Linked DNA regions of Homo sapiens. The protein of the gene in region 2 purifies or fractionates together with the protein of the main gene of each other region. This does not show direct contact. Each region holds a gene or a part of one and is shown on either strand. Other genes may lie near its edges.

What was found.
Region 1: the proteins of TBCA (region 2) and CLIC4 fractionate together in Homo sapiens (co-fractionation; one large-scale study listed by BioGRID). This does not show direct contact.
Region 3: the proteins of TBCA (region 2) and TIGAR fractionate together in Homo sapiens (co-fractionation; one large-scale study listed by BioGRID). This does not show direct contact.
Region 4: the proteins of TBCA (region 2) and THEM4 fractionate together in Homo sapiens (co-fractionation; one large-scale study listed by BioGRID). This does not show direct contact.
Region 5: the proteins of TBCA (region 2) and LAP3 fractionate together in Homo sapiens (co-fractionation; one large-scale study listed by BioGRID). This does not show direct contact.
Region 6: the proteins of TBCA (region 2) and DGUOK fractionate together in Homo sapiens (co-fractionation; one large-scale study listed by BioGRID). This does not show direct contact.
Region 7: the proteins of TBCA (region 2) and MSRB3 fractionate together in Homo sapiens (co-fractionation; one large-scale study listed by BioGRID). This does not show direct contact.

Annotation. Positions count from the first base shown.
Region 1 is NC_000001.11:24,841,644-24,845,263, reverse strand, and holds the end of CLIC4 (chloride intracellular channel protein 4), read right to left. Parts: 3' UTR 943-3,620; downstream 1-942. UniProt on the Homo sapiens protein: In the soluble state, catalyzes glutaredoxin-like thiol disulfide exchange reactions with reduced glutathione as electron donor. Can insert into membranes and form voltage-dependent multi-ion conductive channels.
Region 2 is NC_000005.10:77,690,025-77,693,793, forward strand, and holds the end of TBCA (tubulin-specific chaperone A), read right to left. Parts: intron 3,329-3,769; coding exon 3,242-3,328; coding exon of another isoform or gene 3,098-3,241; exon of another isoform or gene 1,475-3,097; coding exon 1,394-1,474; 3' UTR 1,142-1,393; downstream 1-1,141. UniProt on the Homo sapiens protein: Tubulin-folding protein; involved in the early step of the tubulin folding pathway.
Region 3 is NC_000012.12:4,323,681-4,328,112, forward strand, and holds part of TIGAR (fructose-2,6-bisphosphatase TIGAR), read left to right. Parts: intron 1-659; exon of another isoform or gene 660-1,159; intron 1,160-4,432.
Region 4 is NC_000001.11:151,902,765-151,907,196, forward strand, and holds part of THEM4 (acyl-coenzyme A thioesterase THEM4), read right to left. Parts: intron 1-4,432. UniProt on the Homo sapiens protein: Has acyl-CoA thioesterase activity towards medium and long-chain (C14 to C18) fatty acyl-CoA substrates, and probably plays a role in mitochondrial fatty acid metabolism. Plays a role in the apoptotic process, possibly via its regulation of AKT1 activity.
Region 5 is NC_000004.12:17,575,522-17,580,497, forward strand, and holds the start of LAP3 (cytosol aminopeptidase), read left to right. Parts: upstream 1-1,676; 5' UTR 1,677-1,944; coding exon 1,945-2,046; intron 2,047-4,302; coding exon 4,303-4,418; intron 4,419-4,976. UniProt on the Homo sapiens protein: Cytosolic metallopeptidase that catalyzes the removal of unsubstituted N-terminal hydrophobic amino acids from various peptides.
Region 6 is NC_000002.12:73,933,007-73,937,438, reverse strand, and holds part of DGUOK (deoxyguanosine kinase, mitochondrial isoform a precursor), read right to left. Parts: intron 1-4,432.
Region 7 is NC_000012.12:65,284,638-65,289,069, forward strand, and holds part of MSRB3 (methionine-R-sulfoxide reductase B3 isoform 2 precursor), read left to right. Parts: intron 1-4,432. UniProt on the Homo sapiens protein: Catalyzes the reduction of free and protein-bound methionine sulfoxide to methionine. Isoform 2 is essential for hearing.

The DNA.
Region 1 (3,620 bases), on a different chromosome or scaffold from region 2:
TCCTGGGCTCAAGAGATCCTCCTTCCCCAGCCTCCCGAGTAGCTAGGACTACAGACTCATGCTACCACACTTGGCTTTTTTTTTTGTTTGTTTTTTGTTTTTTTTTTTCCTGTAGAGACAGGGTCTTGCTGTATTGCCCAGACTGGTTTTGAACTCCTGGCCTCATGTAATCCTCCCACCTTGGCCTCCCTAAGTGCTGGGATTACAGGTATGAGCCACCATGCTTGGCTAGGAATTGCACATTGTTTGATTTGATCCTCAATCACTTAGGATCTTTATTCGTTTTTTAAAGCACTTTTTGTTTATTAGAATAGGTAATATATTTACCAATTTCTAAAAACTTAAAAGTATACATTGATAATTTCCCACCCCTTTACCTCAGGCACCCAATTCTCCTCCAGAAAAAAACCAATGTTACCAATTTCTCTATTGGCTTTCAATGTGCTTACTATTTGTATATAGTAGTTATATTAAATTTTGTTCCTCGATCTTGCAACTAGAAATCCAGCTGAATTATTTTTAGTATTTGTAAGTTATTTTGGATTTTATACACATACACACCATCAACATCATTACCTGCAAAGGGCAGTCATTTTGTTGCTTCTTTTCCATTCTTTATTCCTTTCACTGATGTTACTGCATTGGCTAGGATATCTCTAAATAAAGTAGCTGTTAAAGTAGCTGGATAGTAGCTGTGATAGAGGGCAACCTTGTCTTATTCTTGACTTTAACGAGATCGCTTCTGTTTCATTTGCTATAGGTTCTCAATAAAAGTCTTTATCAGGTTAAAAAAAAAGTTACCTATTTTGCTAAGAATGAGTAGCATGAATATTTTAATCAAGTTATTTTCTGTACCTATTGAAATGATCCTATGGTTTTTCTCCTTTAACCTATTAAATGTGCTGAATCACTCATAGAAAAAAAAATAGTAGTCTCAAACACTTTTACCCCAAGTTGTTGTTTATTTTCATGAGGGGGGAAAAAAGAATCCTTTATGATAGTGAAAATATACTTTATTTTTTAATACAATAGCTGCCAGCAATATACTGGTGCTGATGTTCCAAAGATAAAAGAAAATACATGCATTCTATAATAAGCTTTCATTTGCCTGTTCAAGAAATTATAAAGAAAATACTCCAATTCTGTTCAACATTACGGCTTGAGGAGTTGAAATTTTTCCATGATAAAAATATACTTTGTGTGGCCCAAACCTTGACTATTTATAAAGGATGGAGTTTTTAAAAGCCCACATGTATCAATAATGGATGCTCCCCTCTCTTTGAATTAAATGCTTAAATTCAAATTAATGCAAGAAATTGGTGAATCATTAAATGATGAAATTTGTATCAAAATGTTCATGAAAAAATACATTTCTATTTCCTCTACATTTTTACTTTGTAGTTATTTTCTAAATGGGTTTAAGGGCACAGAAATAAATGCTATCTACATGCAACTCTGGAGAGATTCAAAACACAACAGAAGTTAACATGCCTAAATCCTAGAGTTGATCCATTTAGTGTAAGAATAAATGTCAGAAATCTCTTAATTGTATACAGATTGCTCAAGGATTTAAAGATAAATTGTGAAAGCCAAAATTACCAAGAAATAAAATCTTATTTGAATTTTATCACAAAAGTTTACAGTCCTAGTAAAAGACAACAGAACTGTATAGAATATCTGCATCTACATCAAAAAAGGGAAGTTTTATCAACTAGAATAGAGAGCTTTCCAACTGCTGAATACAAAAATTTCTCAGAATCTCTTGGAAAACAGATCCATTCAGACTCCAATCTCCTCACTGAAGTAAAACACAAAAGGTGTTTAAATGAAGGGGAATGGATGTTAGTTGTAAAAATAAAATCAGATTATTTCCATTATGGCAATTCATATACTGCATGAACTGTCTACCATGAAAACTTTATGTCCCAAATTTCTCAAGATGTTAAACTATGCTCTTTCCACAAACATACAATGGGGTTAAAGCATGTTGCTGGGTCGTCCTTTTTACTAGCTAGCTTTTGTCCATTTACCAATTTCCATTTCATTTGACTAACTTCCCTGATAAAGTGGTATCTGTGTTTCTACAGAGAAAAATAATTCTGTCTTCATCAAAATCACAATAGACATGCCTTCCTAGAACATTTAGAGGGATGGCCAGGTGTAATCACTGGTTTAATAAAAACAGGAGAATATCCAAAATGAAAATATTTGAGTTTCAAAATGAATTTTCATCACTGTATTCTGAAGAATGTAGTTCTTTCCTCTTGTTAGCCCTCCACCTCGCACCACTCAGTCCACCATTCACTGGAAAGAACAAACCTCACTGCTCTTGAATCTTTTTTATACTTTAAGCTATGAGGCAAGGTTCAGAATCACCAGAATGAATCCCAAGTTGCCACTATTTAAAAAGTAGGTGAAGAATGATAATGCCTGCCTGTGTACTGGTGCAGATGGGACATTTTCACCCACTAAAACCACTGCAAAATAATTTCTCAATAGATAACTGAATAGTGCATCTTCCTTGAACCAGATAAATCATACAATATTTAATTACCAAAAAAAAACCAAGCGGGTACTCAAACTTTTGATAAGCAATAAAGAGTTCTAAGAAAGGTAAGGCAAAGAATCTTCCTGAGCCAAATGGATACAACATGGAGATTTTCTTATCTTTCATACTAAGCTAATTAATGATAGGCTCAAAAAATGCAGTATACTTATAAAAAGCCGCTTTCATAAAGCCAGTGCTTACTAAATGTTAGCATATCAAAGTGGGAGAAACACTGCCATTTTAAAGCAATAAACTTAAAATTTCAAGAAACAGCCTATGAGAAATAGCACTTCCTATACAAATTAGGTATAAAAAAATTACCAAAAATGTATTATAGTCACAATCACAGTCTTTGGAGTAGTACGTAGAAAGTCTGGTTTTGCTTTTGTCTTTTAAAAAAGAGTAAATACATAGCAAAGTTTTATTTTCAGCAAGTTCATCCTCCTGTTAGAACACAAATAATTCCTGGTTTAGGGCTTCAATTAAAAAAAACCCCGAAAAACAAAACAAAAACATGCAGAGTGCTATTCCTCAACATGGCTGTTGGAAAATTTAACTCCAGGAAGTGCAATGAGTGAGATCAGGCAAAACTACAGTAAATACACACTCACCATAACTATAACTTAGTCCCAAAGGAATGAACAATCCTCTATACAAGGTAAATGGGGTGAAATGAGAAAATTGGTGACCTGTGTTTTATCTTTCTTTTATATAGGATGGATAACGCATTCTTTAGGTCATCTACATTAAATGTACTTTAGAAACAAAAATTTACTTGATATTTTGACAAACCCACCCTTCATTCCTTAGGTTAATTTCTGTGTTAATTTTTACATTACTAATCATTGTACTGCTATAGCTAAGTCAACTAAAAATCAGTTATGTAGTGTTGCTCAACAGATGTACAAATAGCAAGCTCTATGATTACGTAAAAACAAGCTTTTTAAAATAAAGAATGCAATAAAGTTCCAAATGAATGGCACAGGGCAAAACACATATAACAAACGTATTTAGACAGAGTATCAGGTGCCCATCAGTTTCTCTTCTAAAGATAAAATGCTTGAGGAAGGTC
Region 2 (3,769 bases):
ATAATCTGTGCTTTATAACAACAGAACCTTTAAGAATAACTTAGGAAAAAATAATTATTTTTCTCTTTTCTGATCTTTGGACAGATTCAATAAATGTTATGATTTCTAGTGATTATCTACAACTTCCAAAATCATACCAACCATAATAACACTGTAAGTATTTAATGCAGCAAAAATTCAAGTTTTTTTTTTCCAATTTTGACTTTTCAAATTTAAATGCTATATATAGATATTTGGTTCCTTACACCAATGCCCATTAGGCTGGTGATATAAGGCTCACACACATTTTCTGGAAATATAAAAAATCTAAATGAGTTGTCTTGTATTTTTGGAAAATAAACTCAAGTGATTGGGTAACAGGGTCACAATTGTACTGGAAAAATGCTTTCTGACAAAATGATACTTTTCCCCCCCGAGTCAATCTAGATAATCAAGATTGGCTACAGCCAAATTATGGTGGAGCTGGCCCAAATTTTCATAACTCTGTGTTCAGTGATGTCATATTAGTAGTTTGAAATTGGTCAAAGGTAGGAGTATTTATACCACAGAAATCAGCAAAAGCTACCAATCAGAGGTTCCCCTCCTATTCTGAAGAGTCTTTAAATATTTGCCAGCACTTCACTGGCAATGGCCATTATTGTTTCAAAATACCATTCAACTCTTCATTGTTCATAAGAATCTTATTTGAAGATCTAAATGGTTGGGGGTGTTTTCTGTGTGAATCTGTCCTCGAAAAAGATTTAAATGTTTCTCATTCATTTATAGTCATGGAAATGTTAGAGTTTCACTGTGAAGGCCTTATTATGTGAGACCTTCCCCAAAGAGAGTTCTTCCTTTTATATCAGTTGTATTCTATTCCAAATAAACTGCTTACAATTCAATCTTTTAGAGATAGGGTCTTGCTATGTTCCGTAGGCTGGAGTACATTGGCATAATCATACCTTACTGCATCCTCATACTACTGGGCTCAAGCAATCCTCCCACCTCAGCCTCCCCAGTAGTTGGGAATACAGATATGTACCACTACACCCAACTAAAATTTGGATTGTTATTTGAAAAAATGGTATTCTATTTTTTAAAACTCAATCCATGCTTGTGAAGCAAAATATGTAGACTTCGAATAGAACCTAACAGATTATAGTTCTCTGTCATAAAGTCTATGTGGTTTAATGATAAAAGGTTAATTTAAAAATTTTGTAAAGTATAAAATAAACAATTTTATTAGATGAACTCATTTATTTGACATATTAAATTAGACAAAGAAATATATATGTAACCAGATAAAAACAATCACATTCTCATACTACTTGAACACATAGCAGTGGTCAAAAATAATGGATTGTAAAATGGACCCCAGGATTTAATGCAAAAACCACCCCATACGAGAAAAGTTTCAGGCTTCTAACTTCACTGAATCCAGTACTAAACGTGCTTCTTTATATTCCTCAGCTTCTTCCAAGTCTTTTTCATTTTCCTAAAATGAAATACAATAAAAATTAAGTTTATCCTTTTCAAGTTTCAGTACTTTGTTATTTACTCAAATATTACAAACCATTAATGTTAATAACTAAAAAATTAAAAGTAAAAAATCCCAAGCCTCATCTAAATATATTGTAATTCCACAGGTTTCCCACATTCTGTTCCTTCTTTACAAGGAAAGGAAGAAATAACTGGTGGTTTTGTTTCACTGTATATATTCTCATAAAATAAGTGAATAACAGTCTTCTAAAGCTACCAGCATTAATTAAATAAAAACCTCAGAAAAAGTTTATTCTCATTTTGTTGACCCATCATCATCATACAAAAGAGAAAAGTAAAAAGGAAGATTTACTAACATGTTACATATATGACAGCATTCAGGCCAAAATAATCCACTGACTATTCACAATGACAAAGAAGGCTTCTGATGTCACAACAGAGTTAAATATAATCTTTGAATTAAACAAATGAATTGCCTGCTTGCTAATGGGTATTACATACCCTACACTAAAGGAAACAAAATACATCTTTCATTTTCTGATATTTAAAGATTGAGTTTTTCCATAATACTGATATACAGGCAACTTTTACTAATATATTGTAATGATAACAGACAAATGAAATAATATTATCTAAAGTACACAGGAAATTTTGTTTGATTTTTAAATGAAGCTATGGTTAGCAATTTATGTCAGGTCAATAAAAGATGGAGATATACAAACAGTAGAGGAAATAAAGTATGTGTGTATTTAATATGAAAACTGAAAGCAAAACGACTGAGAATTTGCTTAGCTCAAACTATACGTAAGAATTTCTTAAACCTCCATGTTATACCTTAAACACATCTTTGTTCTCTGTTAGTAAATACAAGCTCTTCAAGGGCAGAGATATTGTTGAATACATCTTCACATACAAATATATCATCCAAATACATTATTATTATTATTATTATTTTGGTATTTTTAGTAGAGACAGGATTTCACCATGTTGGTCAGGCTGGTCTTGAACTCCTGACTCGTGATCCACCCACCTCAGCCTCCCAAAGTGCTGGGATTACAGGCATGAGCCACTGCACCTGGCGGCCAACATTATTTTTTTCCAAGCAATTTCTATTACTTTCTCAGCTACTAGATTCATGAGAGAAAAAAGCATTTAAACTGTCAAGAAATACAAATGATGCTTCCTGTCTTAGATAGTATTTTAACAGTTATTATTTCCTGCTTTATCTACCTTCTGTATCACAAGGCATTTATACCAGCAAGTATAAGTGTTATTCAGCTCCAAGTTAGTATGAGGGGACTACATAGATTACCAGGTTTTTTCCCCCTCTCAAACTGATCTAGGTTTGAATGTGAAAGAATTCAAGATCCTTTTAATAAGATCCCAAATTCTTTTGAAACATTAGATCTTTTAAAATTTTAATCAGTCAACTCATCCTCAATGTCTCAAAAGATCTTTATGTATGAAAACCAAATAATCAAGACATTGCTGGACAATACTGGTACTATCATAACTTAAATAAATTTAACTAGCTAAATTTTAATAAACTGAACAAACATGCTAGAAAACAGTACTTTTACTGGAGGCATAATTCAAAACACAATTTAAACTCCATTAATTATTTTAAAATATAGCGGTATAAAGGGCAAGTGAATAAGAAATACTGCCAACTAGTTCTCAGTGTTAAATATTTAAACTTTTGGCTTTCCATGTATTGGATTGAAAAAAAAAATTTAAACATGACACAGAAGTCTTTGCTTACTAGTATCCGTTGAAGATCCAAATATGCGGCTTCCAACCTGCGCTGGCAATCTGGGATCATCATCCTGGATTCTTGTAGGATCTCTGCCTAGAATGAGAATCTCTGTGAGACGTTCAAAGATGGCAGAACTTGTAGGTGTTTAGCTCATATCTTGGTAAGTATATCCTTATTAAGAGGAATCAGAAAAAAGTTATGGTTATGTTAAATGGTTCAATATTTTAACTTAAATTGTATTTATTAGAAGTTAGAAAGGCCAGGCACAGTGGCTCACGCCTGTAATCCCAGCATTTTGGGAGACCGAGGCAGGCAGATCACCTGAGGTCAGGAGGTTCAAGACCAGCCTGACCAACATGGAGAAACCCTGTCTCTACTAAAAATACAAAATTAGCAGGGCGTGGTGGAGCATGCCTGTAATCCCAGCTACTCAGGAGGCTGAGGCAGGAGAATCGCTTGAACCCAGGAGGCGGAGGCTGTGATGAGCTGAGATTGCACCATTGCACTCTGGCCTGGGCAACAAGAGTGAAACTC
Region 3 (4,432 bases), on a different chromosome or scaffold from region 2:
ATTTGTAGATTACTTGAACATCACCAGCCATTTTTGAGGCTACTTTTTAGTCTCTTAATATAATTGTGTGGAGTTATGACAATAGTTTATTTTGTTCTGTTTTATGTGTAGGAAGATGGAGTGAGAGGGCTGGTTCAATGCTTTCCGGTCTGGATCCTCCTGCTTCTTGCCTTCAGAGTTCTCAAAACCAAAACCTGGTGATTCTTTCAGGAAAAGAAGTGATTTTTAAATTTGACTCATTATCACCATAGTTAAATGTAATGACTTTTTGAAGAGTTAGATAATTTTATTGGACTTACCTCTTCAGATAATGCAAAAAAATCTTTAAAGCAATTTAAGTTCAACAGAACCTGTTAGGAATCTTGTGCTGTTCCTGTATGTGGTTTATCTTTCTTCATACTTTGAAATGAAAGTACCAGTGTGTATCATTTCTGGAACAGACTGCCCAAGATTCCAGAATTCAAGTCTATCATCATTGTCAGACTATAACTTCTCATGAGCTTATGGCACAGCATTGTTGAAAACTCCAACACGTGTAGGTTGGCATTACCATCACCTATCCAGCACTACTGAAGGGTCTGGTTCCTTGGAATGTTGTAGGTGTTTGCAGTGAGTCCCCGGCAAAACCATCCATTTAACTTCCTTTTTTTTTTTTTTTTTGGAAATATGTGTGCCTTTATTAGCTGAGCCACTACTTGAGGGGGATGAAGCGGGAGGAGTGGGTGGCCCCGATGCCGGGCCGGCAGTGCTTCACCAGCTTATAGGTGATGGAGAACTCGCCCAGGTAGTGACTGATCATCTCCGGCTTGATCTCCACCTGGTTGAAGGTCTTGCCGTTGTAGACGCCCACCATGCTGCCCACCATCTTGGGCAGGATGATCATGTCCCGCAGGTGCGTCTTCACCACTTCCGGCTTCTCCATGGGCGGTGCCTCCTTCTTGGCCTTGCGCAGGCGCTTCAGCAGCGAGTTCTGTTTCCGCCGCAGGCCCGGGTTCACTTGCGGCCGCTGGCACGCACTGTACAGCTGCGTCAGCTGCTCGCAGGACACGTCCCGTCCCGCAGCTGGTCCAAGTCTGTGCCGCGGTAGGTGAGTTTGCGGAAGGTCCGCTTCTTCTGCTCTACCTCGGCCATCTTGTCGGATCCTCAGAAAAGTTCACTTCCATTTTTAGGCAGCTCGTAAAGCTTTAAAATTTTTTGGCAAACTAAATTTAATATACTTTTAATGATTTAAAAATGAATTAGTAAAGTTTTTTTGTTTTTGCTTTTTTTTTTTTTTGACGAAACGGAGTTTCACTCTTGTCACCCAGGTTGGAGTGCAATGGCATGATCTCCGCTCGCCACAACCTCCGCCTCCCGGGTTCAAGCGATTCTCCTGCTTCAGCCTCCGGAGTAGCTGGGATTACAGGCATGTGCCACCATGCCTGGCTACTTTTGTACTTTTAGTAGAGATGGGGTTTCTCCATTTTGGTCAGGCTGGTCTCGAACTCCCGACCTCTGGTGATCCGCCTGCCTCGGCCTCCCAAAGTGTTGGGATTACAGGCGTGAGCCACCCCACCTGGCCGAATTAGTAAAGTTACTGATAGCAAAACTGATTTTTCTTACTGTACTTTTATTGGCAGTTACTTTTTGTGTAATGCTAATAATTGTTCTGTATATTAATAAAGCAAGCAAAATACTATTAGCTCATCTGTAATTTAGTATTTTTATAAAGCTAATACTTTTATAAAATTTTAATGCTCTATAAAAGTATAAAGATACCTTGTACAGATACTTTATAAAGATCAAAGACAGCCGAAAGTCCTGCAATCCCAGCACTTTGGGAGGCCGAGGCGGGTGGATCACCTGAGGCCGGGAGTTCAAGACCAGCCTGGTCAACATGGTGAAACCCCGTCTCTACTAAAAATACAAAAAATTAGCTGGGCGTAGTGGCACTCGCCTGTAATCCCAGCTACTCGGGAGGCTGAGGCAGGAGAATCTCTTGAACCCGGGAGGTAGAGGTTGCAGTGAGCCCAGATTGCGCCGTTGCACTCCAGCCTGGGCAACAAGAGTAAAACTCGTCTCAAAAAAAAAAAAAAAAAAGAAAGACCACCAAAAGTCTTGTGTTACTAGCTCTTGAAATCTTCTATATTTGCAAATGAATGTATTAGTGTAAAGGAATTAGGACTAAGCTGTATTCGTGATATCAGGTGAGGGTTTACATTTTCATTTACACTAAAGAACAGCTTTCCCATGATTTGTTCCTCCTTTGTAGCACGCTGAGTATTGTGTGTTGAATTTGAATTCCTTAAATGGAATTAAGGGAAATTGAGGTTTCTGTATGATTTTTGAAGAAATGCTGCAGCGTATAAATCCAGGCTAACAAGATATAATGTCTTTTAAGAACTGTGAGATAACCTACAAAATGAATGATGTATATTTGTAGGGCCTATAAATGGCTGATCCTAAGACTTAACATCTTGGCAGAAGCACTCGGATTCCTGCAGAGTCAGGTTTCTGTTTTGGAAATGGACCACACTGCAGATTTTGAAAATGAGTGGTGTTATTCCTGACTCCTTCAAAATATATCCCTCTGACCTTTCAGCTCCGTTCACCTTCTCTGCTGCTATCACAAGTCAGACTTGGTTAAGGGAAATAGATTAATAGTAAAACTGTTTTAGCCATCAAGTTTCCTTTCCCATTCCCCAAACGTACTAATTAAACAGTTACTTCAAGGATTTATATAAACCTCTTAATAAAGCTGATAAAAGCTGTACAACTAAATATTTATGAAAGCTTTTGGAAAAAAATCTATTTTTGGATTCCTACTCTTTAATATTTATAAAGTGATTTGAACGCAAAAATGCCAAATAGAACTAAACTGAATGCTGTGATTGTTAATAATACTATTGAGTCTACAGCAGCCTCTGTTGATATATGGCTAAATGAGTCCTTCATTATATCACAGTGGTTATGCTGCTTTCACTGAAAATCGTTAGATGGTGGGGCAGTACTTTTATGAAACTATCAAATTTCTGGGATTCCATTTTTTATAAAATGACATTTTGACAGTGTAAACCTTTATTTTAATTTGAATCTTTCATTATCTACTTTGATTAAATAAAAATGCTGAGTTACTCTTCAGCAAGTATACAAAAAGTAATCATCTCTGCCAAATTTCTGTGATTTGTAAATTCTGAGTTTTTTTGGTGGCTCTTGCATGATTTCTTGGTTGGCAAATTATTAAATTTCTTCTCACCCCTCATTTCAAAATGAGGGTGCTTCTTTGGCTTTGGCTGGAAATTGTGTTAGCAACCTATAAAAAGAAAAACTTTAGACAAATTAGACTTAGTTTATTTGAGCAAAGAAATGAATCATAAATCAGGCAGCACCTGAACCAGTAAAGCTTCAGAGTGCTCACCCAGTGACATAGGCAGGCAGTATTTATAGACAGAGAAAGGAAGTGACATGGCCAGGCGCAGTAGCTCGCACCTATAATCCCAGCACTTTGGGAGGCCGAGGCAGGAGGATCACCTTAGGTCAGGAGTTAGAGACCAGCCTGGCCAACATGGTGAAACCATGTCTCTACTAAACATACAAAAATTAGCTGAGCGTGGTGGCGCTTGCCTGTAATCCCAGCTATTTGAGAGGCTGAAGCAGGAGAATCGCTTGAATCCTGGAGTTGGAGATTGCAGTGAGCCGAGATCACACCACTGCACTCCAGCCTGGGCTGCAGAGTGAGACCCCATCTCAGAAAAAAAAAAAAAAAAAGAAAGAAAGGATGTGACATATAGAGATAGCCTGATTGGATACAGCTCTGCTTTGCCTTATTAGGACATGTCTGAGCAGTTTGCAGCCCATAATTGGCTGAAAGCTCAGCTGCCATGCATGGTTGGCTGAGACTTGGTTTTTATTACAGGAATATACTCTCAAATTATGTTGTAGTTTGTGTGCATATTAAGTTAGGTGACAGCTCCCTAGGCATGGAGGCAGTTTTAGGCCAGGTTTAAATTAAGGGCTACAAGCCACTGTCTAGCGAGGATGTTACTTGTTTTGTTTTGTTTTTGAGGGCGCAATCTCGGCTCACTGCAGCCTCCGCCTCCTGGGTTCAAGCGATTCTTCTGCCTCAGCCTCCCGAGTCGCTGGGACTACAGGCACACACCACCACGCCCAGCTAATTTTTGTATTTTTGGTAGAGACGGGGTTTCACCATATTGGCCAGGCTGGTCTCAAACTCCTGACCTCATGATCCGCCTGCTTCGGCCTCCCAAAGTGCTGGGATTACAGGCATGAGCCACCGCGCCCAGCCGAGGATGTTACTTATATTGAAATAACAGATATTTTATTCTTGGTCTCAGCAAGATTTTGAGGCTGAGACAGGAAGTGAATCCAATACATGGTAACTATTTTCTAGATTAAAAATGACAGGTTCCCCATGTTTGCCCTGAATGCTTCT
Region 4 (4,432 bases), on a different chromosome or scaffold from region 2:
ATCACTTGAGGTCAGGAGTTTGAGACCAGCCTGGCCAACATGGTGAAACCCTATCTCTACAAAAAATACAAAAATTAGCCATGCGAGATGGTGTGTGCCTGTGGTCTCAGCTACTTGGGAGGCTGAGGAACAAGAGTTGCTTGAACCAGGGAGGTGGAGGTTGCAGTGAGCCAAGACTGCACCACTGCACTCCAGTCCGGGCAACAGAGTGAGATTCTGTCTCAAAAACAAACAAACAAAAAACTCTACAGAATAAAAACGTCCTGGCTGAAAAAAAGGAAGTCCTGACTTTGGAGTATCAGAGGGTTGGGGATACATGATCAGGGTTGAAACCACTTTGCCCTTAGCCCAGGATTTGTAATCTTTTTCCATATATATATATTTTTTAATTGGTTCATCCTTCCAGAACCCAGCTCAGAAAATTTGGGAAAGAAAGAAAAGAAAAAGTTTTAAACCCACCCATCTCTCCCTCTTAATATAATTAATGGCAAATTTTCTTTCCTCCAAATTTTTTAAATATAATTTTTCCTAATATACTTGTAATCTCAGTAAAAACAAAAACAAACAAAATTTTAAAAATCCCACAATTTTGCTTTCTACATTTACCACTTGAAATTATTTAGTGTTCACTTTCTCCGTAATATCAGTTACCACCATTTTCAATAGCAGAAAAATAGTCCATTAAACTGATATACTATATAATTAGCCATTAAGGTAGATATTTAAATTATTTCCAATCTTTTGCTGCTCTAAATGAAAATGTCCACTGGAACATTATGAATATAGCTTTTCCTCTATTTTGGATTATTTCCTTAGAATCCAGTCCTGATTATGTAACTTTTAAAGGACATGAATCTAGAAGTAACCCAACAAGACAATTCATCACAGATTACTATGTATTGACCAAAACATGTCAACTGAGAGGCAGAATAGTATGTATAAGCTTTGGAGTTATGAATTTGAACTCATCTCATTAGCCACTGGTCTCATCTTAAACAAGTAACACTAGGATCCATCAGTTCCACTGTCCTTTTATGGATACAGAGCTAATTAAATACTTTTAGGAATTAGAATGACTCCCTTAACTGTGGGTTCTCCTGATTTTAACTTTTAAAGTCTGGGATTCCGTTAAATCCAAGAAACTTTTTTTGAGTCCTACTACATGCCCTGGTTCTATGTGAGGGACAGGTAAAACAGAGAGAAGACTTAGACCCTGCCTTCAAGTGTTAGCAGCCTTGGATGTGAAAAATACTACAAGAGAAATAGATACAGGCATAGAACGGATGACTTTCAGGGAAAACTTTGAAATGATGGAGTGATTTCCTACGGATAAAAAGTTCATTAAGGAGAGAATGGGGAGGGGGCCTGCTCCAAGCGAAGGCATAGGAGATTGAAATAAACGTATCACATTGGGGAACTGCTAGGGTTTCAGCCTTCATATATGTAAGGTGGAAAGAGAAGAGCAGCAAGATGTGAAGAACTAGAGGGATCACACCATAGGGCTTAGATTTCAACTTCTAGGTCAGTATTTCCAAAGACCAGCATGAAAAATGATTTTAGGTGGCACAAGGACAAAAATATATGTATTTTAAAATATAACAAAATATATTCATATATTATAAAAGGACATAAGTAGAAAACTCACACGTGATTTCACCAATGTTATTACATAGGATTAAGTTAACTAAAGAAGTGGCGTCTTTAAAGAATCATGAAAGCACTTGAATGATACAGCACGTTTTTCCTTTATGAGGAGACTTAAGGAGTTTTAAGCAAGGGAGTAATATGAACATAGGTTTTAGAAAGCTCCATCTGGTGTAACGAATGAATTAAAATGGTGAAATGCAATGGTAGGGAAACCAGTTAAAAGACTGTTGCAAAGGCCCAGGTCAGATATGGTCAGAATCTGAACTAGGTACTGAGTAATGAAAAGTAAAGTTTTAAGATATTTAGGACATTGGGACTGAGGGATGTGGGGAGTTACTGACTGGGAAAGAGAAAGCAGAAGAGTCTTGAATGATTATCTAGAGCTGTGGCTTTGAAAACTAGGGTGAATAGAATGAAAAGAAAGGTTTTTCTTAGTGTGCACATGTGGATCAGGAGAGAGAAAACAGGAGTGTAACTATTAATTTTAGTTTGGCAGGGGTTGAATTTGTTACTCCAGATGGACACTATAATAATGTAGAAATAGAAATAATAAAGGTTTCAGTTCAAGGAGGTGAAAACTAAGAGATACCTGAAGTAAAGACAAAGCATAGATTATAAATGAAGTAGAAATGTTAGGGACAACGATTATATTTTGTTGTCCTGAACAGAGGAAAGGTCTTGCTTGAGCTTTGGTTACACATTTATAAAGTGGTAAGACAGCGAAGTAAAAAGAGCTCCCCAGAGAACCTCCCACCAGCCTTTGACTGGGAGAACAGGGTGGAGCCACAGAAGTTCATGCCATTGGCAGACGCAAGGAGCCTGGCCTCTTGAGTTCCTGTGTGGCAGGGTAGGAGCAGCTCCCTCTTCCTCTGCTGAGGTTTTTCTCTTTTTCCTTTTTTGCCCAATAAATTCCATTATTCTCACCCTTCTGTGTCCACAAGACTGATCTTTCCTGATTGTGTGACAAGAACTTAGATGAATTGAGAAGAAAGTCCTTTTTTTTTTTGAGACAGAGTCTCACTCTCACCCTAACTGTGTTTGGCGCTCAAATATGGGGCCTGAGGAAGTGAGGCAGGAAATTGAAGAAAGCAAAATAAAATTTAAAAAGTGAAAAACAAGCTTTCTATATGAGGCTGACTCATCCCAAAGGCAGTAACAGGCAAAGCCCTGACCCGGGTGTAGTCTTGATAACATTCTCAAAGAAACCAGGGCTCAAAGGATGTGCTCTGGAGACTCTTCCAGCACTCCCTCAACAAAAGGATAAGAAAAAGTAAAGTTCCCCCTTGAATCCCATCCCCTTCCGTGTGATTGTACCTTGCTCTGCAAGTTTTATGAGTTTATAGATTCCTGTTTTCTGTAACTAGTAACTTCAAGTATTCTGTTTTATCTAAACAGCACAGTGAAGGTTATAAGACATGCCTGAGTAGGCCTAGGCTGCGGCCGTCTGGGCACCATAGTGAAGATTATGAGATAAGCACTTGCAAGGCTCTTTTGAGCAAGCCTAGATAACAGCCACCTGGGCTGCATAAGCAAGGGTCATAGTGAGAGGTGACAGTGTGCTGGAAGTCCTCACAGCCCTCGCTCCCTCTCGGCGCCTCCTCTGCCTGGGCTCCCACTTTGGCGGCACTTCAGGAGCCCTTCAGCCCACTGCTGCACTGTGGGAGCGCCTTTCTGGGCTGGCCAAGGCCAGAGCCGGCTCCCTCAGCTTGCAGGAAGGTGTGGAGGGAGAGGCGCGAGCAGGAACCAGGGCTGCGCGGGGTGCTTGTGGACCAGCTGGAGTTCCAGGTGGGTGTGGGCTTGGCGGGCCCTGCACTCGGAGCAGCCAGCCGGCCCTGCCGGCCCCACGCAATGAGGGGCTTAGCACCCGGGCCAGTGGCTGCAGAGGGTGTACTGGGTCCCCCAGCAGTGCCGGCCCACTGGCGCTGCGCTCGATTTCTCACTGGGCCTTACCTGCCTTCTGGCGGGGCAGGGCTCGGGACCTGCAGCCTGCCATGCCTGAGCCTCCCACGCCCTCCGTGGGCTCCTGCACGGCCCGAGCCTCCCTGATGAGTGCTGCCCCCTGCTCCACGGCGCCCAGTCCCATCGAGCACCCAAGGGCTGAGGAGTGTGGGCACACAGCGTGGGACTGGCAGGCAGTTCCACCTGCAGCCCCAGTGCGAGATCCACTGGGTGAAGCCAGCTGGGCTCCTGAGTCTAGTGGGAACTTGGAGAACCTTTATGTCTAGCTAAAGGACTGTAAATACACCAATCGGCACTCTGTATCTAGCTCAAGGTTTATAAACACACCAATCAGCACCCTATGTCTAGCTCAGGGGTTGTGAATGCACCAATCGACACTCTGTATCTAGCTACTCTGGTGGGGACTGGGAGAACCTTTGTGTTGACACTCTGTATCTAGCTAATCTGGTGTGGACGTGGAGAACCTTTGTGTCTAGCTCAGGGATTGTAAATGCACCAATCAGGGCCCTGTCAAAACAGACCACTTGGCTCTACCAATCAGCAGGATGTGGGTGGGGCCAGATAAGAGAATAAAAGCAGGCTGCCCAAGCCAGCAGTGGCAACCCGCTCGGGTCCCCTTCCACACTGTGGAAGCTTTGTTCTTTCGCTCTTTGCAATAAATCTTGCTGCTGCTCACTCTTTGGGTCCACACTGCCTTTATGAGCTGTAACACTCACCGCGAAGGTCTGCAGCTTCACTCCTGAAGCCAACGAGACCACAAACCCACCGGGAGGAACGAACAACTCCAGACGTGCTGCCTTAAGAGCTATAACACTCACCACGAAGG
Region 5 (4,976 bases), on a different chromosome or scaffold from region 2:
AATCGCTGGAACCCAGGGGTGGAGGTTGCAATAAGCTGAGATCACACCAGTGCACTCCAGCCTGGGTGACAGAGCAAGACTCCGTTAAAAAAAAAAAAGTAAAAAATAAGGAATTAAAAAAAACAAAACGCTTTACAGAAAATAAAAATATATAAAAATATTGAGCACTACTTGAAAACTTTCTATTGAAACCATCCCCACTGTGTTGACAAAAATTTCATGCCAAGTTCTAGGCAGAAATATAGTTATAATTAAGCATTAATCAGGCTGTACTTTGGCCCACTTCCTTGTTGCTAAAAGTCACCTAGCACTACATACTGACCATTTGCATTCCCATTGTTCCTATAGACAGGATCTCTGACATTAGAATCATAAGCTTTCTGTTTAAGGATCGCTTAAGATATTTTTCAGACCTTGAATTCCAGCTACCAGTTTGAAGATCCCCAGAGAGGAATGGGGTCAGCTTAAGAATACAGGTTCTTCAACGCCCTGTCCCATGACTTCACCCTGCACTCTTCAATCAACGATCTCCACACTATAGCCCTCTCCAAAACCCTTAAAAACCTTGACCCCAAATTCCTCAGGGAGATGGATTTGAGGTTTCCTCCCATCTCCTCCTTTGGCGACTCCACGATTACACCTCTTTCTCTGCTGCAACCCTGGTGTCTGGGCGTATTGACTTGCTATGTGCACGAGTCAACGAACCTAATAGTGTTACATCATTTTCAAAAACAGTATTTACACCGTTGCACCTGTGGAACAGATGAAAGGACACGAATAAAAATAACTCAGGCCAGGTGCGGTGGCTCACGCCTGTAATCCCAGCACTTAGCGAGGCCGAGGCAAGTGGATCACGAGGTCAGGACTTCGAGACCAGCCTGGACAACATGGTGAAACCTCGTCTCTACTAAAAATACAAAGAGTTGCCGGGCACGGTGGCTCACGCCTGTAAGTAATCCCAGCACTTTGGCAGGCTGAGGCGGGTGTATCACCAGAGGTCAGGAGTTCAAAGCCAGCCTGGCTAACATGGCCAAACACTGTCTCTACTAAAAATACAAAGATTAGCCAGGTGTGGTGGTGGGCGCCTGTAGTCCCAACTACTCGGGAGGCTGAGGCAGGAGAATCTGTTGAACCCGAAAGGCGGAGGTTGCAGTGAGCCGAGATTGCGCCACTGCACTCCAGCCAGGGCTACAAGAGCGAGACTCCGCCTCAAAAAAAAAATCCAAAAAAACAACAAAAAAACACAAAGATTAGCTGGGCGTGGTGGCGGGCGCCCCTAATCCCAGCTACTCGGGAGGACGAGGCAGGAGAATCGTTTCAACTAAGCAGCGGGAGGTTGCAGTGAGCCGAGATCGCTCCATTGCACTCCAACCTGGGTGACAGAGCGAGACTCCGACTCAAAAAAACCAAACAAACAAACGAAAACTCAGTGGGAGTGTCTTCACTATGCAGTCGTCTATTCAGCAACCTTGACAACAAGCTCTGGCACTCAGTTTCTATTTCCCGGGAGTTGCCCAGCGCTCCGCCCACGCCCGCTTGCAGAACTCGCCCCGCCTCCGCCCCACCCATCGTGTGACGTCACCATATCGGTCCCGCCCCTCTACTTCGCGTTGCTCCCGGGACTGTCAACCGCGTCCGGAAGCCCCGCCTTTTCGCCCCCGCCCGCATGCGCGGGCGCACACGAATGCGGGCGCACACGAATGCGGGCGCACACGAATGCGGGCGCACCCTTGAGTCCCCTCCACAACCGCGGTTTGATCCCAGCGGTCCAGTCGGCCGGTGCTGCCCATCCGTCCCGCCCCCTAGACGCACGTCCGCTCGCCCGGCGCCCGAGCCAGTCCGCGCGCACGCCGTCTGCGCCCCGAAAGCCCCGCCCCAAGGCGCGCCCGCCCACCGCTCTCCACGTGCTCGCTGGAGGGCGGTGCGAGGGGCCGAGCCGACAAGATGTTCTTGCTGCCTCTTCCGGCTGCGGGGCGAGTAGTCGTCCGACGTCTGGCCGTGAGACGTTTCGGGAGCCGGAGTCTCTCCACCGCAGACATGACGAAGGTGAGAGGCGGCGGCTCGCTCATGGTCCGCCGCTGGGGCCCTGCCCGTGGGCTACTGGGGCTGCGGGGCTGGTCGAAGCCGCGGTGTCCTGGGCGCCCAAGCCAAGTTGCAAAAATCAGTTTAAAAGAAAAATTCTCTCCTTGCGGGGATCGGCCTAGGCCGCTGAGGACCCCAGCGGTCGTATTGAGGGCGCGATTCCCCTGCTCGGGGCTAGGGGGTGATGGTTGTAGCCGCCCTTTACCCGGCTCCACTCGGCCGCGCACTTGCTCCAGTCGTCACCCGCGGTCCTGGCAGTAACCCGGGGAAAGACGCGGCGGTGGGGCTCCCATCCGAGCTTGGAGGAAGCCCGAGTTTGCCAAGGTGAAAGGGTTTCTGAGGTCCCAGAGTCACAGGGCTCCTTCCCCCGCGGAAGTGAAAGGTCAGGGAGTTAAGTAGCTTGGAAGGGTTTCTAGAGGAAAAGCATGCCTCTCTAGAGAAAAGGGCTTTGGGGAGAGACCCACGTTTCCCAGAATTAAGAGCATCTTCCAGAAGAAAAGTGAACTCCAAAAAATTACGAAGGTCGCTCTTCAGATGTGAAGGATCTGCAAAGGGAATGGCTCTCGGAACCAGCACAAGCTTGGGAGTCATGCCTAAGCACCAGAAAGAGATGACTGTCCCTGCAGAAGAACGTTCTAGGGGGAGCTTGAGCTCCAGTCTCCTGCAGGTATCTCAGTGGTGGAGGGACCAGTCGCCTGACCAGTGCTATCTCCAGTACTGTGCCACAGCCTACCCAGATAACAGTTGCTCAGTTGGCTCCATTGATTCCCGGGGAGTGAACAATCTTAGGGAAGTTAGAACCTGGCAGAGTTACCAATGCCAAGGAAGGCCGTTTTCTTTGGTGGAAAAGACCGAGAGGGCACTATTCTAAGTGTCTGTGTGGTTTTGTGGAAAGATCAACTGCTGGGCGGGAAGACATCTGGATTCTCACTCAGTCCTACCACACCACACAGGAGCTCCTGTCTCAAACTAGGTTTCAGTTTCCTTATCGGTCAAGGGGGATAAGGCTACTTGTTCTTTCCACCTCACAGAGTTGCCATGAGGCAGACAAAACATTTTTAAAGTCATAAATTGCCGTGCAAAAGTAAATACTAAGTATTACTAGGTTTGCTTCCTCATTTCTGGTATTTGAGACCTGAGACTTGTGAAGGAGATGAAGGGAGTGAGCCGCTAAGTGCTTAGCAGAGTGCTTCTACCCTCCCTAGGAAGTTGGTACTTCTCTTACAGCCTCTGTGTTGACCACAGTCCTTACGTGGCAACAGTCCTTACGATGGGAGGCACAGCCATTGGCTTGACTGGAACGGCATCCTAGAATATCTGGGATTTGCACTTGAGGATTGTAGGGGAGGAAAATCTTCCCTCTATCCTCCTAGGTTCTGTGGCTGGGCCTAAGAAAACTGACATAAGATGTATTAACAAGAGAAAAGGATACAGATTTTATTTACTATTTTTACGTGTACACAGGAGTCTGCAAGAGGAAAATGAAGACCTGAAGAAGCGTTGGGCCCAAAAGCTTGTATACCTTTTTAAACAAAGAACAATGCATTGTGGGGGTGTGACAAGACAAAGGGGCTTGGGTTAGTAAATTGTGGAATAATGACTAGGAAATCATATGGGGGTAACTAACAGAAGATAAGGGTGAGTTCAGTAGGTTTATTTGTACAGGTCCATTTTGGTGTTGACTTCCAGTTTCTGGTGATAAGAATGTTCTCCTTTTCCTGGTACAGGGAGATCACCTTTCTCATGGGAATTTGTGTGACCTGCTTTTAGGGAGAAAGGGAGGTCAGAGAGTACCTCTGCACCTGCTGTTTCTCAAGCGCCTTTGGCTGAAAATAACTAATGTGCCAAAGCGGTATATTTTGGAGTGGCATGTTCTGAATCCTTTCAGGGTCTATCTTGGTGACAAATAGATTTTTCTTAAACAAAACATCTTTCTGCTTTATTTGAAAGTGAAGCCGTCTCCTAGGAGTGAGCACAGAAACCCAGGGCAATGTCCAGGACGGGCAGTGATGGGTCTTGCTTTGGCAGGAATCTGAAACACTTGGGCAGGTGCACATGTAGCTGACCCCAGCACCTGCTTCTTTTTTTGCTTTCTTCTGTCCATGGGGAGGACACGGTTTGGGTGGAATTATTTGTTCCTTCTGGAATTTGGGGACTCCTGAGCCTCTCTAAGGGATCTACTCTAATTCTATTATATTTACGTTTTTTGCTTATTCCCAGGGCCTTGTTTTAGGAATCTATTCCAAAGAAAAAGAAGATGATGTGCCACAGTTCACAAGTGCAGGAGAGAATTTTGATAAATTGTTAGCTGGAAAGCTGAGAGAGACTTTGAACATGTAAGTGTTGCTTGTGGGCTCTAGTTCTTAAAGTGCCCCCAAATCGAAACAGTATTTTTTCTTTCTTTTCTTTTTTGAAACAGAGTCTTGCTCTGTTGCCCAGGCTGGAGTGCAGTGGCACGATCTTGACTCACTTCAACCTCTGCCTCCTGGGTTCAGGTGGTTCTCGTGCCTCAGACACCCAAGTATCTGGGATCACAGGCATGCCTCACCACTCCCGGCTTTCATATATATATATATATGTATTTTTTTTTTTTTTCAGTAGAGTTGGGTTTCACTGTTGTTGGCCAGGCTGGTGTTGAATCCCTGGCCTCAAGTGATCTGCCTGCCTTGGCCTCCCAAAGTGCTGGGATTACAGGTGTGAGCCACTGTGCCAGGCCAAGAATATTTTTCTATGCCTTTTTGTCAGAAGAGACAATGCCGGGAAGTGCTCTGGCCAGAAGCAGAAGTGAAAGCCTGTGTCTTTGGAATGCACTTTGGTACTTTCTGTTTCAGTATGGATGGGTCTGCAGTTCTGGGAAGTCAGGCCATTTCCAGCCCAATCAGAAATCTATTGTG
Region 6 (4,432 bases), on a different chromosome or scaffold from region 2:
CTGATGCTGGCCTTGCTCTCTTCAATCCATGCTCCATACTGTGGCCAGACTGAATATGAAATAACACTGCTTACAATCTTTTGACAGCTCTCTATCGGCTAACTGGCTATAGCAAGGGCAAGCAATGGAGGAGTGGCTCAAGATGGGTGTGGCCACATGGGCAGTCCGGGGCCAGATCACATAGGGCCTTGTGGCCATGGTAAGAGGTCTGAATTCTATTCTAAGTGCAATGGGAAGTTAGTGACATCTGAGCTAAGACCTGAACAAGCTTCATGACAAACTCCAAACTCTTTAACATGGTCTGCAAGACACAAGAAGATCTGATCCCTGTGTATGCCTCTCTGGCCTTGGCTTTCCTTTAGGTAGCCTACCCTCCTGCAGGACCAAACTCCAATCATGCCATGTTCTCTTGCAAATATGACTTTGCATATGCTTTCCCATTTCCTGAAGCGCCTCCTCTCCTCACCTGACCAACTCTTACTCAATCCTCAAGGTTCTGTTTAGATGAACCTCCTGTGTGAAGCCTTTCCAGATCCTGACACCTCTAAGCTGGATTAGCTAGTCCTCCTTTCTGCATGGTTGGTATTCTGGGTGAGACTCCATCACTGCAATTGTCATTGTGTTTCTCCAGCTACAGGATGGGGCTCCTCCAGGGTAGAAAACAAATTACAACCTAATGACCTAGCTGAATGAATAAAATACACAATATATTACTAATTTCAGTTCCCTCTGAAACCTACATTTGTGAAAAATAAAAAATAAATCTTAAGACTGTATCTGGACCTCAATCTCCTCTATCAGAAGTAATCTTTCTCAAGGGAAAGAAGGGGGGCATCCTTCCACTTATGGTTACTGATTGGGGTGCTGATGTCTCAGCATAAGAACCCACACATTTAATAGATGACATTTACTACATGCCACCCCAACTCCTCTCTGAATAGGCAGGATAAGAACAAACAGCATGAATCTGTGGATTTGTACAGTCACGCTCATCTCTCAGTCCCCACCTCCACCTAACTTGTGTGTGCTTCTTCACATCTGTTCGATCCCTGCTCTTCCCACACTCCAATGAATAAATGCCCTCCCCTGCTCTTCCAGGCCTGTGTCTAAATCCTTTCCCCCAGCAAGCCTAAGGTGCCACTTCTTCAGGACTTCTCTAGCTCTGAATTCCTACCACACTGGTCAGGTGCGAAGTGGTTGAATGTGTATATTATCAGATACCTGTCTGCCCTGAGTAAGCCCTCGCTTAAAATATTTGGCCCAGATGGTCAATATTTAGATTGTAGGTTGTTTAACAAGTCTAAAATATGGTCCCTGCTATTTAATAGCTAAAAAGCTATTTTAATTAAATGAAAAGATAAACGTAGCTGATTTGTTAGATGGCTGGGATTGAACAATTGTTAGAATTACTTATATTTTTTAAAAGTTAAAAACAATTACCTTAAAAAACTGTTGCAGATGGAAAGGAAGGGCTCTGAGGTCAGACACTATTAGTTCATCTAAGAGCAGTCAGGACTCCAAGAAATTGACTCATGCAATTTAAACACATTAATTCTAGAATGCCAACAAATTAGATGTAACAGGAAATATACAGTTCCAATGACTGGAACAATAACACCTAATACTCAGGGTACTCTGTAACCCATGCCCCATTCCAAGGCTTCTGGAAAGCTAGTTTAGTAATCACAAGGCAGCTTCAGCATACAATGACAGTAAATGGTGGTGAAATGTCCTGAGAGCTGTGCCATCCATGTTTCTCAGCCTTGGAGAGCCTGGGTAATTCACTACAGGGCAGTATTTCTTAAACTAATTCCACTGGAACTGAGCTGTGCCAGGTACCACCCACAGATGTGGAATAATTACTTTAAAAAATAATTCAAAGTTACATGGTTTTATTAAAGCCAGACACAGTATAACTTTCTCAGTGCTGTGATACCTGATCATCATAGATTTTTTTTTTCCCTTCTTGCTGGGGTGTTGTTTGTTTGTTTGTTTTGACAAATGTTTCAAGATGTTCACAGGGGGTTCCTAAGAGTGGTGGTGTTTTGCTCTCCATTGCTTCAGAAGCCTCCTCCTAGTGACCAGAACACCCCTGTCTACAGAAAGCCATACTTCTTCAGCCAATCTCTTATGATATCACTATCTCAGACTTACTGCAATTTAGTTAGATCCCAGCTTAGCTGCTATCTTTCCTTTTGAGATGGGGGTCTCTCTCTGTCACCCAGGCTGGAGTGCAGTGGTGTGATCTTGGCTCACAGCAACCTCTGCCTCCTGGGCTCAGGTGATCTTCTCACCTCAGCCTCCTGAGTAGCTGTCCAGTATGTTTGACCTGTCCAATATATTGTTTGTTTATTTATTTATTTTTGAGACAGAGTCTAGCTGTTGCCCAGGCTGGAGTGCAGTGGCACAATCTCGGCTCACTGCAACCTCTGTTTCCTGGGTTCAAGCGATTCTCCTGCCTCAGCCTCTTGAGTAGCTGGGACCACTACAGGTGTGTGCCACCACGCCCGGCTAATTTTTGTATTTTTGGCAGATACAGGGTTTCACCATGTTGCCCAGGTTGGTCTCAAACTCCTGAGTTCAAGCGATCCACCTGCCTTGGTCTCCCAAAGTGTTGGGATTACAGGCGTGAGCCACTGCGCCGGGCCACTGCTGTTATCTTTCTTTCCTTTTTTTTTTTTTTTGAGACAGAGTCTTGCTCTATTGCCCAGGCTGGAGTGCAGTGGGGTGATCTCGGCTCACTGCAACTTCCAACTCCCGGGTTCAACTGATTCTCCAGCCTCTCAGCCTCCCGAGTAACTGGGACTATAAGCACGTGCCACCACACCTGACTAATTTTTGTATTTTTAGTAGAGACAGGGTTTCGCCATGTTGGCCAGGCTGGTCTTGAACTCCTGACCTCAGGTGATCTGCCCGCCTCAGCCTCCCAAAGTGCTGGGATGACAGGGGTTAGCCACATCGCCCGGCCTGTCTTTCAATATACTCTCAGTATTATGAATTTTGGAAGGTATCAGAACTTACAAGCAGCATCAAACCTTCCCTTAGGACCCTGGCCACCAGTGTTCTCTGTTGTTATATTGCCACAACCTTAAAAAAAGGTGGAAGGTACTTTCTTAAGAGTATATTACTTCAACATGTTGATTTTCATTAGCTCCACTATTCTCATTCCACAAGCTGGGACAAAGAGTTCTGTTGTTACCACTCATCTTTTTCTAAGGCATGTTTTTTTCTCCCCACAAAATTTTCTATAAACTGACAATGCCTACCATAGCTATGTAATGCTAAAATCTAGCAGCAAGATAGCATATGATGTAATACCCAAAATAACAGATCCCATTATTTTACGTCTAATACAGCTGTATTTCATAGGAGCCTATATTTATCACCTCTAGGCATTTTCATCTCCTGAACAAGATGAAAAACATGAGAAAAAAAATCCAATTCTGAAATCTTTTACCAAAATCCAACAAAGTCAGAACATATAAAACTGTCTAATGTCTTTTTTAAAAAGTCCTTCCAAAAAAAATTGAAGTCTTTATTTCAGATACTGTATTTGATGCTGCATTCATTCACTCACTCATTCAATCAACAAATGTTTATGGAGTAGCTACTCAGAGGTAAGTACTATAACTGAAATGATGATCTAGGCTGAGAGCTTGCCCTCAAGTTATATTCCAACCCCAAGACTGAGTACCCAGGATCATACAGGCTCCAAGCTTAAAGGCATTCTAGGCAAAGTTAATAAAAATCAGTCAGCAGGCTTAAAAAAAACTTAATACATTTTACTTTGATGACCTTTTTTCATGAAAAACTGTTTACGAAAAAAAAAAGGCAAAAAATTTTCTCACACCTTCCTATGATCCAAACTCATCTGCTCAGCACAAAAGACCCTCACTGATCTGACATCCCCTCCTCCCGCCTTGCCTACCAGGTGATTCAGCTTTCCACTGCCACCTTCTCTGTGAAGCCTCCTTGAACTCTCTCCAGCGCCACTTCATCTCTAGGCAGAGTTAATTACTGCCTGCTCTGGTTTACCAAAGGATTACGCTGTAATTATTTGTTCACTCATCACTCCCTCCAGCTAGACTGGGAGCTCACTTTTGAAGACAGAGACTGAACCTTTGCATCCTGAGTATGAGAACAGTGATGGAGGGAAGGAGGTGAGTCACAGGCACAGAGAATCCACTATACAGTATTTGAAATAAATAGGCTATTTTTTCCCAAGGATTCTTTGCCCAATCATTTATACTTAAAATAAGTAAGACACATATTAGTGATGTGAAGTCACTAATTTTGAATGCTGGAGGAAACATGTTATTAGGGAAGCCCTCTACTGCTTTATGTTTAAGTTTCTTGATTGAAAAGTGCAAAAGAGTTTCCTCTTTTCTGGTTGGGTCTTTGAAAATAAGGTAAAAATGCTGAGATGACTCAC
Region 7 (4,432 bases), on a different chromosome or scaffold from region 2:
GTAAGGAGAGTTAAAAATAAAGAGAAAAAGAGAGCATTTGTTAGCTGGAGTAAAAGGAAGGGTACAGGAAAAGCATCATAGAGAAGAGAGAATTTGATCTGACTTTAAAAGATGCCGAGTCGGTATATGGCATTCTGTTCACGAGCTTTCCTTGTTGAGGGGACATCACATTTACTAACTTGAGAGATAATACATGGGAAGTGTTGGACAAAGGATACTGCATCCAGAATGACCTTTCTAAACTACAAAATCATTTCCCCTCTTTCCTGCTTAACCCTCCCTCAGTGGCTTCTTATCTTTCTTCAGATAAAGGACTGACTCCTAAATGTCTTCATCATCACCAATTTGAACACACATTGTGTCTCACACTCCTCCTCGTTCCTCACTCTTCTTCCCCAAGACTGGACAGAATGTGAAGAAGATATGATTTCCACCAGATGGAGTACTCTTTATACTTTTTTGGGGTCCTTTATGGTTACTTTTTGTGGCCATGGTCAGGTTCTTATCCATAAAATAATTATTGATAACTTCCTAATGTAAAATGAAAAATAATGATAAATCACATACTTCCCTCATTTTTACAGAATTCCTTGCTTGCCTTATCTCTTCAAGTGTTGACTGCAAGGTTCCTGTACACTTACTTGAGTTGGCCACTCCGGTCACTATACCCTGATCTCTGACACTTGGCCGTGGTAGCCTGGAGCAGCATTGTTACTGGGCATTGCTGTGATTGGGTTACCCAGCTGTGCTGATGTGGAAACCTCAGGGCTATTTATTGATACTTGGTTTCCTAAAGGAAAGTTGAGGGAATGTATTTTATGAGAGGGCTTTATTTACACGATTAAAGAGGTTTATAAAATGTGGAGATGAATATAGGTGAAACAGAGAAAGAATGCTGGTATAGGAGGTGTTTTCGGCTGGGTTTGGTGGCTCATACCCGTAATCCCAGCACTTTGGGAGGCTGAGGCGGGTGGATCACTTGAGTCCAGCCTGGGCGGCGTAGTGAGACCCATCTCTACAAAAACTACAAAAATTAGCTGGGCATTGTGTTGCATGCTTGTAGTCCTGGCTACTCAGGAGGCTGAGGTGAGAGGATTGCTTGAGCCCAGGAAGCAGAGGTTGCAGTGAGCCAAGATCGTGCCACTGCACTCCAGACTGGGCAATAGAGTGAGACCCTATCTCAGAAAACAAACAAAAATCCCCAAAAAACCAGGAAGTGTTTTCTTAGGGTCTAGTTCCCAGGCGAATGGTATATCCTGATTCTAGGTTTATAAAAATAGTATATTATTCATAACATTTGTCTAAAGTGACACATTTACATACAGTATATAGTATTGAGTAATTTCCAACTCTTTAAAAATAATGGAGACCCTTTCATGTAGTAGTAACTATGTTTTTAGTATCTGTTGACTGAGAAAATACGTAACAGCAAAAGCTACTATAAAACTTTGAAATAAGTTCTTGTAAATGTAAAAAAAATTCTCATATATTTGGAAAGTATACATGTGGAAATTATGACTTATAGAGTCTATGGACACTTGATTTCTTGCTTTATGGATACTCTCAGGAAGTTCTGGTCTCAACTTTGAGTATCTCATTGTCCTCTTACTTTAGAATGTGGGGTATGGGGGAAAACTTCTATTTGAAAATTTGAGCCATAGCGGAAATTTTGGAATGACAGGGAAACACCTTCTCAGAATCCTCTTACAATAAAATTTATATATGTTATGCCAGACAATGTACTTTATACTAAGACTGGACTTTTAAATAGTCTCATGGATTAGAAGTCAGATACAATAAATAAATACTTTTTAAAAATTATATTTTTAGGTATATGAGCATTGTTGTTGGGACTACAGTGCTATTTTAAAGTGAAATTTAGTTGATTTGCATGTGAGTATACACCTACAGGTCTCTGTTATAGCCGTGACATGTCTTCTGTTACTATAAATTACATAACAAATCCTTATGGTTTCTTGGGTCACTTATTTTATTTAAAGACAAAAACATCTTTCAGTACATATGTAAGACTTAAGGCATTATTGAAAATAAGCCTGTGCTACATGGTAGAATCTATTAAAAAAAAAAAAACACTCAGGCAAGGCACAGTAGTTCATGCCTGTAATCCCACCACTTTGGGAGGCAAGGAAGGAGGATCACTTGAGGCCAGGAGGTCGAGACCAGCCTGAGCAACATAGGAAGACCTAGCCTCTACTAAAAATTAAAAAAAGAAATTAGCAAGGTGTGCTGGCATGCACCTGTGGTCCCACCTCCTCTGGAGGCTGAGGTGGGAGAATCGCTTGAGCCCAGGAGTTCGAGGCTACAGTGAGCTATGATTGCACCACTGTACTCCATTCTGGGTGACAGAGCGAGACCCTTTCTCAAAAAAAAAAAAAAAAAAAAAAAAAGCAAAACCAAAAACCGAAAAACAACTCAGGACAGTCTTTGTATAAATTAGATAGCCCTAAATTTTATGTTTGTTCTTTCATTTCTCTTTTTTTTTTTTTTTTGGCTGCCGCCCAGGCTGGAGTGCCATGGCAGGATCATAGCACACTGCACACTGTAGCCTTGACCTCCTGGGCTCAAGTGATCCTCCCACCTCAGCCTCCTGAGTAGCTAGGACTACAGGCTTGTGTCATCATGCATGGCTAATTTTTTAAAAAAAATTTATGTAGAGATAGGGTCTCCCTATGTTTCCCAGGTAGGTCTTGAACTCCTGGACTTAAGCAGTCCTCCCACCTTGGCCTCTCAAAGTGCTGGGATTATAGGCATGAGCCTCCACGCCCAGTACATTTCTTTTGTTTTTATTGTGTTTGATTGTCAGAGAACCTGAGTTTGGTTGGGGTTGAGAGAGAACTATAGGGCCTATTATAGGTGAATACTTATTTTATCTTAGATTAGTGGTGTGTAGCTAAGGAAAGGTAAGGTCATATCTTCCTGTAACAGTCCAGATTAGATAGGGAAATGGGTGAAAAGCCACAAGTTGTTTTGCAACTCTGGTCTCACAGTAATTGAGAGCAAAAAGGAAAAAGTGCACTGTAGTCCCCCTTGTTTCTGATTTTGTGGGGTGTGAATATGCCTTCTAGTCAGATCGCCTTAGGGGGCCAGGAAGAGGAGGGTTGAGGGCAGAGCATGTTTACCTGCGTGCAGAGCCACTTGAAAAATTATAGGCTCATTTACATATTTGCATCCTTGTGTATGTGTTTGTGTTGCAGGGGAGTCAGTGTAGTATTATGAAAAGAACATTTGACAGTGAATTGGAAAACTAGGTTTTTCTAGTCTTGTTTTTGCCTGAGTCGTTTAAGCTTCTTGTGCCTCAGTTTTCATATCTGCAAAATGAATGAATTGGACTGGGTAATACCTGGTGTTGCTTTAAGATTCTGTAGGCTGGGCATGGTGGCTCTTGCCTGTAATCTCAGCACTTTGGGAGGCTGAGTCGGGCGGATCACGAGGTCAAGAGATTGAGACCATCCTGACCAGCATGGTGAAACCCCATCTCTACTAAAAATACCAAAATTAGCTGGGCGTGGTGGTGTGTGCCTGTAGTCCCAGCTACTCAGGAGGCTGAGGCAGGAGAATCACTTGAACCCGGGAGGCGGAGGTTCCAGTGAGCCAAGATCATGCCACAGCACTCCAGCCTGGCAAGAGAGCGAGACCCCGTCCCCCCCGCAAAAAAAAAAAAAAAAGATTCTGTAATTTAAGGATTATTTTAAAGTCTCCAACTTTCTGTAATTTTTAATGGAAAAATATAGTTAATACAGTATGCAAAATTATGTCTTTTTAAAAAATATTTTGTTCAAGTTGACTATCTTGTGCGATTCACTATAAGTGTTACACTGCATCTAAGATCTTATGTTTGAACTTCGTAGCCTAGTGTGCCCAGTAATTTGAGCTACTGGCAAAGTTACATAACCCTTTTAAAGATTTAGTATTTAAAGAATAGATTACAATGTATCAGAAGCATCATATTAAATATCCCATCTGAAGTAATGGTATTAAGGACTAGAAATTATGTCTTTCTAAATGTACAGCTGGGAATTGCTTATTTATGCTTGACAATAGATTTCAGATGAGAAAAGTCCTCATTTAGCAGGATATATTACCATTGGAATTTGCCTCTGATTACCCTATTAAATATATTTAACTCTTAAGGTTGGTTAATCTGGTCTTATTTTTAAAAAAAACTTCACTGTGAGTTTTAAAGAAAAAAACTTGGCTAATTTGATGATTTTAAAAAGTATCTTCTCTTGCCTGTAAAATTCACTTATAAGATTTGTCCTTTTTATGAGAGAATATTTTATACACAAAAAAGAATATATAGTGTCTATATAAGGTATAAAGAATATTTTAAAAAAATCTGGGTACCCTCATCCAGCTTCAGAAATGAAATGTGAAAGATGCCTGTGAGACACACATTTCCTGTACTCAGAAG